Linked DNA regions of Homo sapiens: region 2 is linked to region 1. A link means that fine-mapping ties the variant in region 1 to the expression of a gene that starts in the linked region. Tissue or cell type: tibial nerve. Region 1 holds a variant in brackets; the other region holds the start of a gene. All regions are shown on one strand. Distances are between the middles of the regions.

Region 1 (7,820 bases):
GCTAGGACACGGTTTATTTAGGTTAAGAGTGTTTCCATTTAAAGTAGTCCACAGATGATCACAGAGGCTGTTCCCGAAGGGAGGAACACTGGAGTATCAGAAGATTGGGAACCGACAACACCCAGCTCGGCTGGGATCCCAGCCCCCCTTCCCCAGCGGTCCTCACCGCGTCACGCTCGCGGGTGGAAAATCATTTCCCACCTCCTATCCTGGCTCAAGGATGCGCTACCTCCCCCAAGCCCAGAGACCACACCGGTCCCAGACTCTTTAGCGGACCCCCCTTTTGGAGCCGGGGTCCCACGGAATTAGCCACCTCCCTCCCTCTGCTCCCACGGCCTCAGGAACCCCCCACCCGAGGGTGGATGGGGGGCGTCACTGAGCACGATTCTCGATGCAACGATTCCTATGCAAGGGGCATTTTGAGTCCCCCCCATCCTTCCCTCGGACCCTAAACCCTGGTGAAGCAGGGGTGAGGGGTGGGGCGGGTTTTGGTGGGGGCGGGGCAAAGGGCTAGGGGCTCCAGACACCAGGGTACGGGGTGGGGACTGATTATATTGCCAAAGGGTTCAACTTCTTTAACAAGCCCCCCCGTTTCCCCTGACCTTCACGAAAGCCGAAGGAGGCGGGGAAAGGGGGTGAGGGTCTTTTCCAAAGGGTACTGACCTCTTCCCAACGTCTCCCCCTGCTCGCCAGTCCGCCACACGTACCCAGCTTTTGAGTTCAGCTTTTCAAAATAACCACAATCATGATAAACTTCTACAAAACGTGATTCTCCTCCCCTCCCACCCCATCCCCCAAGTCAATAGTGTGGGATTCGGGGAGGGAGAGAGCGAGCTAAAGGGACTCTTTCCAAGTCCGGCTCCCCCTTTTCCCCCCGGCCGCCAGGGTGCCTGCACCTACACGCATGCGCTGCATGACGCGCCCCCCACACGCATGTCGCACCCCTCCTGCGCTCCGGGAACGCACGGACACGGGCCAGGGGGCGGGGCGATTGGGGAGGAATGAATGGCGGGGGGTCTTCCTGAGCTCCGCGGCTCACCCTCCCCAACACACACACACACACACACAGAGCAATAAGTTTCTCTCACTCAAATGTGGGCGGGGCGGGCCTAGCCTGTCGCTGGTGGGGGGAGTGGTGAGGGGGCGCTCTCAGGGATGGGGGCGGGGTTCGGAGACAGTGTGGGGAGGGGAGGTCTGCAAATCGTCCAACTCTGGTGCTAATGGCGGGTCTTCTCAGCCCACCCGCAGGGCAGGGAGGGAGGGGTCGGCGTGGCCCCTTCCCCAAGCCTCCCCCACGCCCACCCTGGGTGCATGAACCGCCCAATGCAGAAGCTGCCGCATGTCACCCCCCTCTCCCCAAAGAAAAAGTGTCATGCCCCCTTCCCACCCACCCTCACTCCCCACCAAAATAAACGTTTCCTTTTCATTTAAAAATGGCCTCCTGTGTGCCTGTTCGGAAAGTCTCCTGATTGCGGCTGGGGCGCACAGAGGGATTGGGACTTCTAGAGTGGGGCCCTATTGCTGGGCACAGTGGCTCAGGCCAGTAATCCAAGCACTTTGGGAGGCCAAGGACGCAGGAAGATCGCTTGAGGCCAGGAGTTCAAGACCAGGCTGGGCAACACAAGAGAGACCCTGTCTTTACAAAAAATAAAATAAAATTAGCCAGGTGTGGTGGCATCTGTAGTCCCAGCTACTCTGGAGGCTGAGGCGAGAGGATCGCTTGAGCCTGGGAGGTCGAGGCTGCAGGGAGCTATGATTGTGCCACCGCACTCCAGCCTGGGTGACAGAGTGAGACCCTTTCTCAATTTTTTAAAAAAGGGGAGGATGGGCTTTGGTGATCGTGACATCTGCTCCACGGCTTGCACCTTATTTAGGGCAAGCACCTGCCTCAGTTTCCCTGATAGTAAAAATGGGGATCCACACCTCTAACTGAAAAGTCACTGAGGACTCAGTCTGACGAACGTGAGCCCCCACACGAGGGTGCCTAGTTCCCACGAGAGAGACAGACCTGGGTCCCCAAGGTGGGGTCAGGGGCTGAGGGCTCAGCCTCTATATGTGCTGACTCTGAGGCCAGACTGTCTGGGTTCAAACTGTTTCAACTTCTTAGTAGCTGTGTGTCCTTGGGCAAGTCACTCAGCCTCTCTGAGCCTGTTTCCACCACTCTAAAAGGGTGGGAGGGGCATCACTTAGTTATTCAGCAAATATTGAGTGAATGCCTGCTGTGTGCCAGACACTGTTCTAGGCACTGGAGTGCAATGAAATCTCTACCTGTAGTGCTATGTAAGGGTTAAGATAAACTGTGTGCTTAGCACAGCACGCAGCACAAACGACCACGGCTGTCTTTTTGTTTTGTTTTGCTTTTGGGACAGGATCTCACTCTTCACCCATGCTACAGTGCAGTGATGCAATCATAGCTCACTGCAGCCTCCACCCCCTGGGCTCAAGTGATCCTCCCACCTCAGCCTCCCGAAGCACTGGGATCACAGGTATGAGCCACTGCAGCAGGCCTGTCATTTATTTTGCAAAACTTAAGAGTTGGCCCGAGTGCAACACCCCTTCTAGCACTCACTGGGGGCGTGGAGTGAGGGATGCTGCTGCTCTGAGACTGTTCCCTCATCTGTATAATGCAGGGAATATTTCCATTATACACTGGAGTCAGGAGGAAAGGAGTTATGAAGCGCCTGATCCACAGGATGTCCCTGTATACCCACGCAGGTGTCATTCTAACCAGCAGGCTGCCTGACCTGCTGCCCTAGCAGGCTGAAGCAGCCTGTGCCCATCCTGCCCCATCAGAGACCCCCTGCAGGAACACACACAGCCACAGAGATGGTCCAGTCGGGTTGGAGTTTATTTCTGCCAGAGCCTGGAGGCTGGGAGGGTAAAGGACACTCCTTTAGTCCCAGAGGGAAGCTCCGAACCCTCAGAGCAACCAGAAGGGAGGGCAGAGCATGGGCAGCAGCAGGAGTGAGAGGGGTCCCCTTGTCCTGCCCCTTTGCAAGGGTTCAAGGCTGGTGGAGGCCTGGGGCTTCTGTCGCTCAGGAGTTCAGGGGTGGACGCAGAAATGGGGGAAGGAGAGTGGCTACGTAGAGAGTGAGAGCGAGATTCCTAAAAAGATGCACAGAGAGACCCTCAGAGAGGCCAAGAAAGATGGTGAGAGGGTAGGGAAGGAGAGGGAGGGAGAGAGAGAGAGAGAGAGAGAAGCAGAGGGAATGGGTTGCACTGGCTGAGGATGGTGGAGGAGCCGTCTCACTCCCTTCCTAATGTCTATAGATCAATAACGAGGGAAGAAAGGAGGACAGGGAGCTGATGGAAACACAGCTTGCCAACTGTACCCAGTCCCCCAACAAGCAAGGTAGCTCCAGTC[A/C]TTGCCTCCCTGCCTGCCCCGCTCCTCTGTGTTTAGGGGTCATCCTTTGATGGGAGGTTGCAGGGGACCCAGGTGGGGGTGATAAATGCCAGAGTGCTGCACCATTTCCAAAGGGCAAGAAGTCAGAGGGCGGGGTTCCTGGGACAGGGGCCCGTGGGGTCCAGGGAGGAAGGGGGCTGGGCCCCATCTGTTAGTGCATCTGGGGACAGGGTAGGGTCACTGGGGGTGGGCTGGTGGGGACCCCTCAGGCTCCGGGGATGGCCCAGACCCAGGCTGTGCTTCCTCTGCCTCCTCGTCGGATGCCACGCCCTCCTCTAGTCGGAAGACCTGGCGCACCGTGCGGGTGGTGAAGGTGAGGGGGCCGCGTCTGTGGGGAGGAGAGACCAGGATACAGAGATGAAATGAGGGGAGGGGAGGGGAGGAGAAAGGGGGAGGAGAGAGAGAGATGAGGGGGAGAGAGAGAGAGATAGGAAGAGAGAGAACAAAATAAGGGGGAAGAGAGGGATGAGATCAAGAGAAATGGAGGGAGACGGGCAGAAGCAATGGGGGGCAGAGAGAGATGAAGGACACACAGAGAGGAGGAAAGGAGAGAAAGGTGGTGGTGCACGGTGGGAAAGGAGGGCACAGAGATGACAGGGAGAAATGGGTGTGGGAAGAAAGAAGTTACCTGGATTTGGCTCTCCCGCAACACAGCCGCTGCTCCCACAGCCCCACACCCCCGTGGATCCCATTTCCCCCTGTTGTTGCCCCTGGCACGGCCTCGCGTCCCTGGGGTTTATGGAGTTAGGGTGCTCCCCACCCGTCAGGCCTGTACGTGGGATGACCATACCGAAGCCGGTTCCTCAGTGTGGTCACTTCACGGTTCATGGACTCGGCCGACTCTGTGACATCTTCCAGCTCACGCTGCAGCCTCCGGCGGCCGGCCTGAGCCCGGGATGCCTCCTCCTCGGCCTCCTCCAGCTGCCGCTTCAGCTGCTTGACTCGAAGGTTTCCCTTCTCCAGCTTGATGGAAGCAGGGGGACTGGGTTATATCTCCAGGTACTGTCATCACTCCCTCCCTCTCCAACAGCCCACTACTGCCCCATCCCTACTGCCCCCTGACTCTCTCTGCCCCATCCTCTGCTCTCTGTTTAGGCCTTGTTCTTTTCTCCTAAATCCCTCATGCCAGCCTCTACCCTGACCTCCAGTCTCTCCCCTCCAGGTTGTCTCCTACATGGCCTCAGAAAGGTCTTCCTATACCCAGAGCTGACCCAGACCCTCCTGCTCACAATCCTTTCATGGCTCCCCAGTACCCCCGGGACAAGGTTCCAGCCCCTCAGCCTGGCATTCCAGGCCCCACAGGGTCTTTTTCTTGTCCAGTTCTCTCTTCCCATAAACCCACTGTCCAGACCAACTTCACTGAGATCCTCCCCAGACCCTACCACCTCTCTCTTCAGGGAGGGAACATACATGATCTGACCTCATTTCTTATCGTTCAGCCTTCCTATCCCACATTTTCTGGAGTCAATGAGCTCCCATCACAAGAAGCAACGTGCAGGTGCTGGACTGGAAGTGAGTGCAGATACCATCCTGGCACTTGGCACATCAGCAGAGGGTTGGAATCAATGACTTCGCAATTTATAAATTCTGGCATCTAGGAAGGGCCCTTGTAGGGAGCTGAGGCAGCCAAAGTGAGGGAAGAAGTTAAACTCTACCAAGAAGCTAGACCAGGACTAAAATAACAACAGATGTTTATCTAGACCATACTAATCTGCTTTTTGTTCTGAACTCACCAAACGTATTTCTATTCTTCAAGGCCTTTATACTTGCTGTTCCCTCTGACTGGCTCTTTTTCACCCTTCAGGTATCAATTTAAATGTCACCTTCTCAAAGAGTTCTTCCTGATCTCCCAACCTGAAGAGGATTCCCCAATCCTCTGTGTCTTCCTCTCTCTTCACTTTTTTTCTTCATAGCCCTTGTCACAATCTGTAATTATCTGCTTGTTTACAGGTTTATTACGTCTCATCCTATGCAGAAAATGTGAGCTCCATGAGGGCAGGGACTTCCTCTGTTTCGTTCACATCCATATCCCTAATGCCTACCACAGTGTCTGGCACATAGCAGGTGCTCAATAATTGTTTGTGGAATGAATGGCGAATAAAGCACAGCTGAGCTTTTAAGGGCAGAGGGACTCTGTCCAGACAGACCTGGGATCTGATCCAGGCTCTATCTCTGTGACTCTGATGCAAAATATATCCTCTTAAAGTTTCAGTTTCTTCATCTGTGAAATGGGACTAGTGAGGAAATGCAAATATGTATTTTTTAAAAAGCAGTTGCTTATGACACAGTAACTGCTCAGTAAGTAATCAAGAACACACACTCTGGGGCTAGAGTGCTGAGGTTTGAATACTGACCCCACCTCTTACCAGCTAAATAATTTTGAGCAAGTTACTTCACCTTTCTGTACCTCAGTTTCCTCACATAAATAAGAGGGTAAATAATAGCACCTTCCTTCTACCATTCTGATAAGAATTAAACACAGTAAATGTTATGTCTTTAGCACAGTGCCTGGTACATAGAAGCTAGTCCTGGTCTAGCTTCTGGGTAGGGTTTAACTTCTTCCCTTGCCCTGGCTTCCTCAGCTCCCTACAGGGCCCTTTCTAGATGCCAGCATTTATGAATTGCAAACTCACTGATTCCAACCCTCTGCTGATGTGCCAAGTGCCAAGATGGTATCTGCATTCAGTTCCAGTCCAGCACCTGCACATTGCTTCTTGTGATGGGAGCTCATTGCCTCTGGAGACAGCCTGTGCAATTTCTCAGCCAGTGGTCACACTCTCCACTGCTCCCTAATGATGCCAGCTGCTTACCTGGTCCCGGAGCTGGTCAGCCACCCTCCGCTCCTCCTCCACCTGGAGCACCACCTCTTTAAGCCGCTTCTCAGCTCTGCGCACCAGCTTTCCAGAGAGGATGCGCTCTCTGAAGAGAGGGATGAGGAGGAGTCTCAGTAGAGGGGCTCAACCTAGGATTTTGTCCCCATAGACTCATGCAGTGGCTGTCACCTTGTTCTTGGATTGGCTTCTTCCCTCTTTCCTAACCCCTAAGTGGTTCCCACAGTTTACTGAGGCCAAACACTGACATGCAGGCTGCCTTCTCCTCGGCATCCATGTCCTTGGCTTCTACTAGGACACCTCACATACCTGTTTCCTATGATGTTGTGAGTTATAATAAGTATATGTTTGGTCCTATTCAGTTTCCAAAGAGGATCATTTACAAACTACAGTTTACTCTTTGGGCCCATTCATTTTCCCCTGAAAATCATTTACTATCTCTCACAATTGAATACATCCTTTTTGTCTCTCTCCCCTATAAAGAGGATACTTAAGCCTCAACCATCTGACCCTGTATAAAAAGTCTTATATTTTGCATGGCTCCTGTGTTCATGCACATTAATATATTTGTAGCCTTTTATTTTGTTAATCTATTTATTGTCAGTTTATTTCAGCAGACTTGAATCTTCAGAGCGGGAGGGAACACTCTTTCTGCCCTTACACCTGTCCTCTCCTGCATGGACCATCACATCTGGGGTGAAGTCCATGTGATGGGACCTCTAGCAATCGGGATTGCTTGACAGCCACCCTGGATACAACAGCCCCAGATGTGCTGAGAGGAAGGCACAGGGCTGGGGGCGAGTGGGAAGGCACTAAGCAGTGGAAAAGGATGAAGGAGAGAGACTTCTTTTTTTTTGAGACAGAGTTTCACTCTTGTTGCCCAGGCTGGAGTGCAAAGGCACGATCTCCAGCTCACCGCAACCTCTGCATCCTGGGTTCAAGCAATTGTTCCTGCCTCAGCCTCCCGAGCAGCTGGGATTACAGGCATGTGCCACCACACCTGGCTAATTTTGTATTTTTAGTAGAGACAGGGTTTCTCCATGTTGGTCAGGCTGGTCTCGAACTCCCAACCTCAGATGATCCGCCCGCCTCGGCCTCCCAAAGTGCTGGGATTACAGGCGTGAGCCACTGCGCCCGGCTGAGACTTCTTCAGCTAAGAATCATCTGGTCATTCTTTGCTCCCAGGGTGACTTTATTATTCTTCTGAGAAAGGGCCTTGCTCTGTTGCCCAGACAGGAGTGCAATGGTGTGATCATGGCTCACTGCAGCCTCAATGTCCTGGGCTCAAGCGATCCTCCCACCTCAGTGTCCCGAGTAGCTAGGACTACAGGTGTGTGCCATCATGCTGGGCTAATTTTTAATTTTTATTTTTGTAGAGATGGGGTCTCGCCATGTTGCCCAGGCTGGTCTTGAACTCCTGGGTTCAAGTGATCCTCCTGCCTCAGCCTCCCAAAGTGTGGGGATTACAGGCATGAGCCACTGCACCTGGTGCAGGGTGACTTTAAGCAACTCATCTACTCCCTCGGAACCTCAGTTTCCTCATTTGTATAATGGAGCAGGGGTCCCCATAGACCTCAAGCTACAGT
Region 2 (6,269 bases), 110 kb after region 1:
ATACACCGGACCCAAACTCCATCCCTGGGACTTTACCCTCACCCCCACCCACCCCACCCCACCCCATCCACTTCCTCACCAGCCCTGTGGCCTTTGACCAGGAAGGGTTTCGGAGTTTTTGCAATCACCCTATGCCCTATGCCTCTCCTCCCTGGAGCCAAGAGTCCAAGCCCCCAGCCCTTTCCTTCCCCAGGCTGAGGAGTCCGAGCTCCCAGCCTCCTCCTCTCCCAGGACCCAGGAGTCTGAGCCCCCAGCCCCCTCCTCCTATGGATTGGGAAGTGCAGGCCCCCTCACCTCACTGCAGCCGGGCTAGAGGTGAGGATGCTGAGTTCTGAAGATGGATCACAGCCCTGATGGGGCGGGCAGGGCCTGCAGGCCTTGGCTCCAAGTGGCCGAGCCTCTCTGACTGCCCTACCCTTCCTCAACCAGCAGGAACACTCTGCCAGGGCTAATTACTGTCACCTGGGCAGGTGAAAGCACCTGCCCTGGGAGGGGCCGAGACTGCTGGGCTTGAAAAAGAAAAGCAGCCAGGGATCCGCCCTGGGGCAGAGGTTGGGGCCCTTGGCATCCAGCCGTCTGACCCTGGCTTCTAGCGCTGGGTTTCCGGAGTCCCAGTACTCAATGCCCTCCTGTCTCAGACCCAGGAGTTCAGGCCCCCAGCCCCTGCTCCTACAGACCCCAGAATCCGGGCTTGCAGCCCCCTCCTCCCCTAAGACCCCAGCTCTGCAGTCCTGGCCCCAGTCCTTTCCTCCCCCAGGACCCAGAAGTTCGGGCTCGCGGCGCAGTCCTTCCTCAGACCTGGGACAGCCGGCCCCCAAGGCCCCTTCTCAGATCCAGGAGTCTGAGAGCCCCGTACCCATTCCCCTGGACCCAAGCGCCTGTGTCGCCGCCCCCTCAACTCGCAGATCCTCGGGGCTACCTGGGGGCGCCGACCGGAGCGGGGAGATGGGGTGAGGGCGCGGGAATCCCCGTTCTCTTCAGGTGCAGCGACCTCCGCGGTCCAGCGCAGGGCGGGGCCCCGTCGCGTCACAGGGCGGGAGCCCGGCTCTGATGTCACCCAGCACCTGCCCGGCTGGGAACGGGGCGGGCCTGGAGCTTCAGGGCCTCTGACGGGGGCCGGGGGAAGGCGGGGGTTGAGCCTGTTGCCAGGTGGGCGGCGGCGGCGGCGGCGCCAGGGGCTCCTCCCCCTTATGGAGGGCAAAGGTCGAGGGCCCGCCGCGGAGAAGGCTGAGGATTCCCGGGATTCAAACCCCGCTGGAGCTTCCTGGGCCTCAGCTTTCCCTGCTGTGCATTGCGGCCAGTGAAATTAATAAAACGACGTTCAGAAAGTTCCCCAGCCCAGTGCTTCATCATTAATCTCCCTGAGCCTCAGTTTCCCAACTGCGGGAAGGGAACAACAAAATCTATAGACAGTAAGAGTACCAAAGAAGAGGACAATGGTATTCTGTCCTGAGCTTCAGTCTCGGGAGTGAAATAAAGACTACATGGTGATAAGAGTACCTACTATGTGTCGGGTATTTTCTCCTCTTAGAACAGCTCTTTGAGATCATAAAATGATTTAAAAAAAAAAAAAGAGGGAGAGACAGGGTCTCTCTCTGTTGCCCAGCTTGGAGTGCAATGCCACGATCATGGCTCACTGCAGCCTTGACCTCCTGGGCTCAACCGATCCTCCCTGCTCAGCCTCCCGAGTAGCTGGGACAGCAGGGTCACGCCACCACGCCCGGCTAACTCTTTTACTTTTTGTAGAGACGAAGTCTCGCTGTGTTGCCCAAGCTGGTCTCGAACTCCTGGGCTCAAGCGATTCTTTCGCTTCCACCTCCCAAAGTGCTGGGATTACAGGCCTGAGCCACTGCGCCCGGCCTAGAATAACCTCAACAACCAATGACATAGGGGTGATCAGCATGTCCATTTCTCTGATGTGGAAACTGAGGCAGGAAGGGTCAAAGTAAGGCACTCAAGATCACACAGCGTAAGAGGGAGGTCTGGAATTCAAGCCTATACCGTTTTCTGCCATTCTAAAGGAGGGGGTCTGGAAAGAACTTGTAGCAGGTCCCTAAAGACATGAATTTCTGCGTCCCAGTTGGTGATTACTACCAACCTGCTTCCCCATCTATGCCACAGGGACCACCGCTTTCCTTAGGGGACTCCTGTGGGACTGAAAAGGTTAAAGGACCCAGCACACAGTTGGTCTCTGGAGTGTTCTTCTCCACCAGGTCCCCCTGCAGTCACCAATTCGGCCCAGTCTCAGCCTTCCCCTCTCTGTATAATGGGTACAATATAACTCACCTCGAGTCAACACGATAAGGAAAGGAAATTATTTAGTTATAAAAAATAAAAGCGTCCAAGTACATCATAGGTTCTCAAATATGTCCTTCCCTACCCCTCCGCCTCTTCCAGTCACGACCCCTCTCTCTGGCCTCCGATTCTGACACGTGAGAACAGAGACATGTCATGCTGGGGGCGGGGGACTGGAGGCGATGACTCAGGTATTAAAGCGGCCGAGGTTCCAAAGACAGCCTCAGTTTCCCCTTCTGCGGAACAGGCCCGGGGCTGACAACGAGGACCCCGACCGGGCCTCGCACACGGCGGCAACTGGAGTTGGGGGAGTGTAGACGTCCCGCCCCCCCACCTCCCTCGCCGCCGTCCCGCTGCGCGCCCAAGGTGAGTGTCCGCGTCACCTCCCCGCCGTCCCCGGCCGCCTGCCCGGGCTCCCGGGCCCCGATCGCAGCCCCCAGGCTCCAGCTTCCCCTGGCTCAGTCCCGTTCCGCCGCCCCCGGAGGGCTGCCGGCCCCGGGCACTCACCGGCTTCCAGGGCCGTCCCGAGGCTTCGGCCTGGGGAGAAAGAGGGGCGTGTCCGCCAGGACAGCCCCGCCCCCAAGAGAGCAGCAGAGGCCAATCGGCGCCCGCTGCGGCAAGCTACGGCCCCGCCCCTGGGGGACGGGAGCCGCCAATCAAAAAGAGCGGCTGGCGGGCTGGGCCAATCAGAAGTTGTCGAAGGGTGCCAGCCGTGGGAAAAGAACGCGGCCCGGGCGCGGAGCTAGGCGGCGCGGTCGGGGGTGGAAGCCGAGGCCTGATGGGCACGGGGCGCCACCAATAGCGAGGCGCGGGGGGCGGCCGGGGGCGGGAGGCCCAAGGGGCCAGGGTGAATGGGCCGCTTTGTGCGCAAGGCATGAATGGGGGCCTTTGTAAGGGCCGGCGTGGGGGGGCCGACCGAAGGCCGGAATGCCTGGGTCCCCCGGGACCCGGCGGGCAGGAGAGACAGGAGACAGAATTCACTTTTGTCGAACGTAGACCATGTACCAGGCACCCTCCCAGGCTCTCACCCACCGGGGAGGTGTGGGCCGTGATACTATCGGAATAACAATGATCGTTTATCAAGCACTTCGATGTAGACCGGGAGCTGTGCTAAGCGCCTTACCTGCATGATCTCATTTAATCCTTACAACGAAGCCCTTGAAATTGGTGCTATTAAGATCTTCATCTTCTAGATGAGGTAACCCCAAGCTTAGAAAGAGGGTGTTAATTGCAGAAAGTCACAGAGCTGGCCGATGGCAGAGCAAGGACTCAGATCCAACCAGAAGTTGTGCTTTTAACCGCCATGCTATGCCCAAACGTGGTAATGATTCCCCATTTACAATTTACAGATGGGAAAACTGAGGCTCAGGAGAGCCAAAAGACTTCCCAAGGTTGGAAGGGTGCCGTGGCTCACACCTGTAATCCCAACACTTTGGGAGGCCAGGGTGGGAGGATCACTTGAGCCCAGGAGGTCAAGACCAGCCTGGGCAACATAGGCCCCATCTCTATTTAAAAGGAAAATAAAAAGAGCCAAGGGCACAAAGGAATGGCTCCACTGAACCCAAGGAGGCCTGCCAGCTTGGCTCGGCTGCTCAGCAGCTGTGTGGGCTCAGGCCAGTTGCTGGACTTTTTTGAGATTCCATTTATTTCTGCACTCGTAAAATGGGAGTGATGGACTGTCTGCCTTCACCCTTGCTCTCCCTACAGTCTACTCTATTCAGATGGGGCCTTTCCTCTGTTCAGAGCCTTCCATGGCTCCCATTTCACTCAGTAAAAGTCTAAGAACTCACCATGGCCAATGAGGTCCTGCGGGATGTGGCTGGCCCTTTTGCTCTCTCTGATCTCACCCCCAGGCCCTCCCCTTCATACTGCTCCAGCTACACTGGCTCAATTTCTCAAACCAGGAGGCCTGGTGCTGCCCCAAGGCCTTTGCATTCTCTGTTGGGTCCACCAGGAATGCTCTTCCCCAGGTTTTGCATGACAACCTCTCTCCCACATCATCCGTTCTGCTCCAATATCACCTCTTCCAAGAGGCCTTTCCTGGCCATCCTATATAAGACAGTTCCTCTCATCACTCTCTCTCGTTTAACCCCGCTTTGCTTTTTCTCATAGCACTGGGAGTGTTTGCTAATTTATCTGTTTATCATCTGTCTCCTCACTAGAATTTAAGTCCCACGAGGACAAAGATCTTTATTTTGTTCAGTGCCGAATCCTCAGTGCCTGGCACACAGTAGGTGTTTAATAAGTGTTTGTTGAGTAAATGGTAATGAGTGCTTGTATTGAGTGGATTAAGTGAATTAGTGCCTACAAAGCTCTTAGTACAGTCCTGGCACCAGGGAAAAGGCTGAATAAGAAAGTACTGGCCAGGAGCGGTGGCTCACGCCTCTAATTCCAGCACTTTGGGAAGCTGAGGCAGGCAGATCACTTGAAGTCAGGAGTTCGAGAGCAGCCTGGCCAACATGGTGAAACCCCGTCTCTACTAAAAATACAAAAATTATCCAGGCATAGTGGCCCACGCCTGTAATCCCAGCTTTTCGGGAGGCTGAGGCAGGAGAATCACTGGAACCCAGGAGGCGGAGGTTGCAGTGAGCGGAGATAGCACCACTGCACTCCAGCCTGGGTGGCAGAGTGATTCCATCTCAAAAAAAAAAGAAAGAAAAGAAAAAGAAAATACTGATTATCATGACTATTGCCATTTATTGTCCTACAAACAGCATGCAGGAGAGAAACTATATACATACGAAGTCTAGCGTACGAGCAAGAAGCCAAAGAAATATGAAAGGAAATGTTGGGAGATAAGAGATGGGCAGAAAAGAGACAAGAGAAGCTGGAGTTGGGTGCTGAGGGCAGACACAGATTCAAGCATCCAACTCCCAATGCACTTGCTCAGCAACAGCAAAGGTGAATCACAGGACCATCCCTGTGGTCATAGTGTCAAGATTGCCATGGCTTTGAGATTGCCACAGCCACCTTCCACTTCTTTGCAGATGGGGAAACAACATCCTGGGGAGAAAAGGACCTTTCTGAGAGTACTCGCAGTGATAACACAGCTCACAGTTGTGAGGTCTGATTGTGTGCTGGAAACATGACTGTCATTATGTCAGTGCATCCTCATGCCAGCCCCGTGAGGCTGGCATGGTCATTACCCCACTTTATAGGCTAGCAACATGTCCAGGGTCTCCTGACTACTGCTAATGGCGGATCTGGGCTCCAACTCCTAGGAAACAGGCCCCTGCAGGCATCTGTCTTAACCAAGACAGAGCTGAGGGCTCCTGTCACTCTGGCTGGAGCGTGCTCCATGGAAACATCCTACAGTAAAGATAATGAGTGCTGCTGTGTATGGAGTGCTGACTGTGTGCTGGACATTTTGCCCTTTTATGTATTAACTCATTGGATTCTCTCCACAACCCTACGAGGCTGGTGCTTTTATTATCCCCATTTGATGGATAGAAAACTGAGGTCCACGCCAGGCACAGTGGCTCACCCCTGTAATCCCAGCAATTTTTGGGGCTGAGGTGGGAGGATCACCTGAGGCCAGGAGTTTGAGACCAGCCTACCCAACATGGTGAAACCCTATCTCTACTAAAAATACAAAAATAAGCCAGGCATGACAGTGGGCGCCTGTAGTCCCAGCTACTTGGGAGGCTGAGGCAGGAGAATTGCTTGAGCTCGGGAGGTGGAGTTTGCAGTGAGCCAAGATTGTGCCATTGCACTCCAGCCTGGGTGACAGACTGAGACTCTATCACAAAAAACTCAAAAAAAAAAAAAAAAAAAAGAGAGAGAAGAAAGAAAGAAAGAAAGAGAAAGAAAGAAAAATTGAGGTCCAGAGACATGAAAGTCCTGTTCCCAACGGTGCTAGGAAAGAGTATGGACTGGGACACAACAGAATTTCAAACAGGAAAGAAGGCACTGGGCACCCACATTTTAACTATAATCTGCCTGGTAACTGGTGATGTCATCAACACTACCCAGGG

What was found. PIP is the estimated chance that this variant, and not a neighbour inherited with it, causes the effect.
Region 2: it holds the start of MYH14, and the variant in region 1 is fine-mapped to the expression of MYH14 in tibial nerve (GTEx, PIP 0.99).

The regions. Positions count from the first base shown.
Region 1 is chr19:50,305,551-50,313,370 of GRCh38, reverse strand. It overlaps MYH14 (myosin heavy chain 14), which reads right to left. Exons shown (of 43, transcript NM_001145809.2): 41 at 6,214-6,322; 42 at 4,194-4,366; 43 at 2,831-3,731. The coding sequence ends at 3,581. KCNC3 (potassium voltage-gated channel subfamily C member 3) reads left to right here. Exons shown (of 5, transcript NM_004977.3): 5 at 1-1,434. Among named protein-coding and RNA genes, the nearest start is that of KCNC3, 20 kb to the left of the region's middle. RefSeq lists an enhancer at 1-266. The variant A/C (reference allele first, on the strand shown) is at 3,365.
Region 2 is chr19:50,200,205-50,206,473 of GRCh38, reverse strand. It overlaps MYH14 (myosin heavy chain 14), which reads right to left and starts at 2,852. Exons shown (of 43, transcript NM_001145809.2): 1 at 2,803-2,852. LOC124904746 (a long non-coding RNA gene) reads left to right here and starts at 2,498. Exons shown (of 3, transcript XR_007067298.1): 1 at 2,498-2,661. RefSeq lists a silencer at 1,031-1,130.